Regions from separate parts of the Homo sapiens genome. Here region 1 is linked to region 2. The links come from fine-mapping of genetic effects on gene expression. Tissue or cell type: lung. Region 2 holds a variant in brackets; the other region holds the start of a gene. All regions are shown on one strand. Distances are from middle to middle.

Region 1 (2,500 bases), 700 kb before region 2:
ATGTGACACTGTGCTCTGATCCTGTGAGAAAACTCCTGTGCTACCCGACAGGCCGTGAGCTCCAGAGAGGATCTTGCCTTATTCTTAGCTTCAACAGTCAGCCCAAGGCCTGACAACCAGCCTTTAAGAAGGAATCAAGGGGATTTGTGTGACCCAAAGATGGTAGTTTTGTCTGAGGATCTAGTGAACCACTTGTTATAAAAACAGCTATTATGAGTTCTGTGTTGGCAGCTCAGGAGAGACGAAAGGAAAGGGAGAGGAGAGGTACAGCCATTACAGGTGAGTAAAAAAGGCCTAAGGTTCTGAACCCTCATTCCCAAGATTGTGGGCAAACAATTAAATGCTCTGCAACTCAGTTTCTGCATCTGTAAATCTGGAATTAAAATGTTTGCCTTACAGAGACTAGGGGAGGTTACACATGTTCAGACACCATTCTGAGAAAACAGAGCGACTGACAGGGGTCTGAAAGGTATTTGTTGTAGCTGCAGAACAACTCTGCCAGACCAAGACCATCCATCCCTCTCTGCCCCCCTATTCCCAAATTCTCCTGTGTGGACGGCAGGACTCCTAAGCTCCCAGGAATGCATTCAAATAATAGATGGGTCAGAAAATATTCTGTCTCAGGGCCTTAATACAAGCTGTTCTCAGATTTGCCAGTGTCGCGCTGCCACCCTCTCCCCACTTCCTCCTCCCTTCCCACTCCCCCCTCCCTTCCCCTCTCCTCCAGTTTTATTCTGGAACCTGTTTTTCCGAAGTCGGACCCGTTTAATCTCTTAAATGTATAATTAGGGAGAGTGCTTGATTGCAAAGGCCTCTTCCAGTTCTCACATTTGCTCCCTTTCACACTGCAGAGAAATAGGGCAGGGAATCTAGAGGAGGGGAAGAACAAGAGACTGGAGAGGGAACAGAGGGAGGGTGGGGCGGGCTCACTCCTTTTCTCAATGAATGCCGAGGCCTCTGCAGATTTGCATAGGAGCCGATCGAGCCACGCCATTGGTTGGAGGGTGCGGGTGGGGCGGGGCGAGGCCGGACTGCGTGGGTCGGGCAGCAGCGCGGAGTTGGCTTGTGAGCCCCGCCCCCTCCGGGCCCCGCCCCCTCCCTGCGCGCGCTCGCGCGGCTCAGCCAGCTGCAAGTGGCGGGCGCCCAGGCAGATGCGATCCAGCGGCTCTGGGGGCGGCAGCGGTGGTAGCAGCTGGTACCTCCCGCCGCCTCTGTTCGGAGGGTCGCGGGGCACCGAGGTGCTTTCCGGCCGCCCTCTGGTCGGCCACCCAAAGCCGCGGGCGCTGATGATGGGTGAGGAGGGGGCGGCAAGATTTCGGGCGCCCCTGCCCTGAACGCCCTCAGCTGCTGCCGCCGGGGCCGCTCCAGTGCCTGCGAACTCTGAGGAGCCGAGGCGCCGGTGAGAGCAAGGACGCTGCAAACTTGCGCAGCGCGGGGGCTGGGATTCACGCCCAGAAGTTCAGCAGGCAGACAGTCCGAAGCCTTCCCGCAGCGGAGAGATAGCTTGAGGGTGCGCAAGACGGCAGCCTCCGCCCTCGGTTCCCGCCCAGACCGGGCAGAAGAGCTTGGAGGAGCCAAAAGGAACGCAAAAGGCGGCCAGGACAGCGTGCAGCAGCTGGGAGCCGCCGTTCTCAGCCTTAAAAGTTGCAGAGATTGGAGGCTGCCCCGAGAGGGGACAGACCCCAGCTCCGACTGCGGGGGGCAGGAGAGGACGGTACCCAACTGCCACCTCCCTTCAACCATAGTAGTTCCTCTGTACCGAGCGCAGCGAGCTACAGACGGGGGCGCGGCACTCGGCGCGGAGAGCGGGAGGCTCAAGGTCCCAGCCAGTGAGCCCAGTGTGCTTGAGTGTCTCTGGACTCGCCCCTGAGCTTCCAGGTCTGTTTCATTTAGACTCCTGCTCGCCTCCGTGCAGTTGGGGGAAAGCAAGAGACTTGCGCGCACGCACAGTCCTCTGGAGATCAGGTGGAAGGAGCCGCTGGGTACCAAGGACTGTTCAGAGCCTCTTCCCATCTCGGGGAGAGCGAAGGGTGAGGCTGGGCCCGGAGAGCAGTGTAAACGGCCTCCTCCGGCGGGATGGGAGCCATCGGGCTCCTGTGGCTCCTGCCGCTGCTGCTTTCCACGGCAGCTGTGGGCTCCGGGATGGGGACCGGCCAGCGCGCGGGCTCCCCAGCTGCGGGGCCGCCGCTGCAGCCCCGGGAGCCACTCAGCTACTCGCGCCTGCAGAGGAAGAGTCTGGCAGTTGACTTCGTGGTGCCCTCGCTCTTCCGTGTCTACGCCCGGGACCTACTGCTGCCACCATCCTCCTCGGAGCTGAAGGCTGGCAGGCCCGAGGCCCGCGGCTCGCTAGCTCTGGACTGCGCCCCGCTGCTCAGGTTGCTGGGGCCGGCGCCGGGGGTCTCCTGGACCGCCGGTTCACCAGCCCCGGCAGAGGCCCGGACGCTGTCCAGGGTGCTGAAGGGCGGCTCCGTGCGCAAGCTCCGGCGTGCCAAGCAGTTGG
Region 2 (2,754 bases):
GAGTGATAATGGTCACTCACATTGGTAGAGCTCTTTAGGATTTTTCAAAACCATTTTATGTTGGTGAATTCATTTCATTGACAACCCTAGAGGGTGGGGAGTGGCAGTGGTTAGGGAAACAGGGCAGGAGTTACCATCCCTGCCTACAGAGAGGGAAACTGCAGTCCAAAGAGGTCCTGTGACCTGGTCCTCATGGCTCAGCTTGTAAGTAACAAGAGGCGGAATTAGAGCACAGATCCCCAGACACCAATTCAGAGATCTTTTCATGATGTGGCTCTTCTCCAACTCTGTGGCTTGGCAGTTCTCCAACTATAGGAAACACAACTGACCAAGATCCCAGCTGCACCCTCAAATCCACTGCTGTGATTGCACTGAAGCTGCCCTACCCAATGGCTGAGCACAGCAGAAATACTAAGGCAGGCCAATTCCTGGGAGTCATGGGACTCCTCTGATGACTGACTTTGGCTCCAGAACCCCTTAGGGCCTTGCTGAAACTTCCTTAGGCTCCATGGCACCCAGGGTGCTTCCACCCAACCTTCCCTCCCTCCCTCGTTCACGTGGGGTTATACTTGCAACACAGTCTGCTGGTTCACCCAGCCTTCCCTGGCTCCCTCCCCATTTCCTCTCATGGGCATTTCTTCTAATAAAATCTGCAGACCATATTGGGTCTAATCCCATCTCCAGTCTGCTTCTTGGAGGAACCAGACTAACATGACTCTGCCCTATATAATACAAATAATTATTTTCCATATATCTGATTTTTAGCTTTGCATTTACTTTAAATCATGCTTCAATTAAAGACACACCTTCTTTAATCATTTTATTAGTATTTCTAAGTATGATGGAAAGGTTCAGAGCTCAGGGGAGGATATGGAGATCCAGGGAGGCTTCCTGTAGGAAGTGGCCTGTGTAGTGCTTCAAGGGCCAGGCTGCCAGGCCATGTTGCAGCTGACCACCCACCTGCAGTGTACCGCCGGAAGCACCAGGAGCTGCAAGCCATGCAGATGGAGCTGCAGAGCCCTGAGTACAAGCTGAGCAAGCTCCGCACCTCGACCATCATGACCGACTACAACCCCAACTACTGCTTTGCTGGCAAGACCTCCTCCATCAGTGACCTGAAGGAGGTGCCGCGGAAAAACATCACCCTCATTCGGTGAG[C/T]GCCCTGCTGCCGTCCTGGGAGGAGAGGGGTGCAGTGTAGGGGCTGAATGTTATCACAGCACCGCAGACTCCTCTAGCCACAAAAGGCCGGCAGAGCCCTCCCTATGGGCACCCCTAGCCCTCCTAGGAGGACAAGCCTTGACATTCAGGGCCATGTATGTTGGCTTACATTAACTCCCATAGTTTATGGAGTTTATACAATGAGAGGAGAACCAGGGCTCTCCTCAAAATTCATTCAGATGTGCTCTCTCCAAGTCTACCTGGCTCCCCTTCCCTCCAGGGGAGCAGGGGAGCAAAGGGCCCCTCCTCTGAGCATCTAGAGCAACTGCGCCTTCCTCTGTCACTCACTGGAAATACTCCCCAGCCAGTACCCACAGTGATCTGTCTCTCCCCAAGGAGCATGAACCTCCCCCGGGGAAAAGCCATGGCTTATGCACCCCTGTGTCCCTGGCAAATATCAGAGACTCAATAACTACTGATTGAATGAATAAACATTTGACCATTGTCATGAGTCCCTGGTTGGAATCCTTCTTACCAGTTTTCAGGTGAAGAACTGGAAGCCCGAGATTGCATAGCAAAGCCATGTTGAGGGTATTACTCCTGAGTGTGTATGTTACCCCCGCCTCTCGTGTTTGTCCACTAAATGTGACGCCCAGGCTCAGGACCCCCAGCTGCCTCATTATTGTGGCCTGTTTGACTCTGTCTCCTCTTGTCTTCTCCTTTGCACAGGGGTCTGGGCCATGGCGCCTTTGGGGAGGTGTATGAAGGCCAGGTGTCCGGAATGCCCAACGACCCAAGCCCCCTGCAAGTGGCTGTGAAGGTAAGAAGTGGCTCACTCTTGAGCCTGCCCTTGGCTTGCGGACTCTGTAGGCTGCAGTTCTCAGCTCACAGCCTCCTCCTCCTCCCCACCCTCCCCTTCTCTGCCCAGACGCTGCCTGAAGTGTGCTCTGAACAGGACGAACTGGATTTCCTCATGGAAGCCCTGATCATCAGGTAAAGCCACAGAGAGACACCCTCACCCCAACTCCCCTCTGCCCCCAAAGAACCTGGAGAGGTTTCTAACAGATCGATATCTCCAAGGGAAATCGTGTTGTCCCTAGCATGTCCCCTTTTCTCCAGTAGGAGACTCCCAAACATTCTAGACACTTCTTACCAGAATGGAACAACCCTTGATGGTTGTTTCAGAAACAAAGTCTGTGTGGCCTAATAATCCCACCGATGTCACTGTCTGCAACCAGTATCCCTGCTGTTATCCACTGGTTCTTCTTCCCTCACTTTTTCTTAAGAAATGGAGCATGCTAGACTTTGACAGTACAAGATATAATCTCCCTCCAAGACCCTTCACCAATCCCAGTAATTGTGCTTCTAATATGATGGGAGGCCACCCCATCCTAGGCTCCCATCAGCAGGGCTGAGTCTCAGCTGGCTGCACCTTTTGACTTGAGGCTCCAAGATCTGGATTTAAGCTGAGAGTCTCAGTGCCTATGGCTCCTGAGGGCGTCCGCTGTGACAGCAGATCCCCTCAAGGAGGGGGCAGATATTTGACCTCAAGATCAGGTGGGGGCTCATGGCCCCCTGTCACACTGGGAAGACTCT

Evidence for each region. PIP is the estimated chance that this variant, and not a neighbour inherited with it, causes the effect.
Region 1: it holds the start of ALK, and the variant in region 2 is fine-mapped to the expression of ALK in lung (TOPMed, PIP 0.99).

What each region holds. Positions count from the first base shown.
Region 1 is chr2:29,920,236-29,922,735 of GRCh38, reverse strand. It overlaps ALK (ALK receptor tyrosine kinase), which reads left to right and starts at 1,150. Exons shown (of 29, transcript NM_004304.5): 1 at 1,150-2,500. The coding sequence starts at 2,077.
Region 2 is chr2:29,221,741-29,224,494 of GRCh38, reverse strand. ALK (ALK receptor tyrosine kinase) reads left to right here. Exons shown (of 29, transcript NM_004304.5): 20 at 967-1,153; 21 at 1,888-1,978; 22 at 2,087-2,151. Among named protein-coding and RNA genes, the nearest start is that of CLIP4, 110 kb to the right of the region's middle. The variant C/T (reference allele first, on the strand shown) is at 1,159.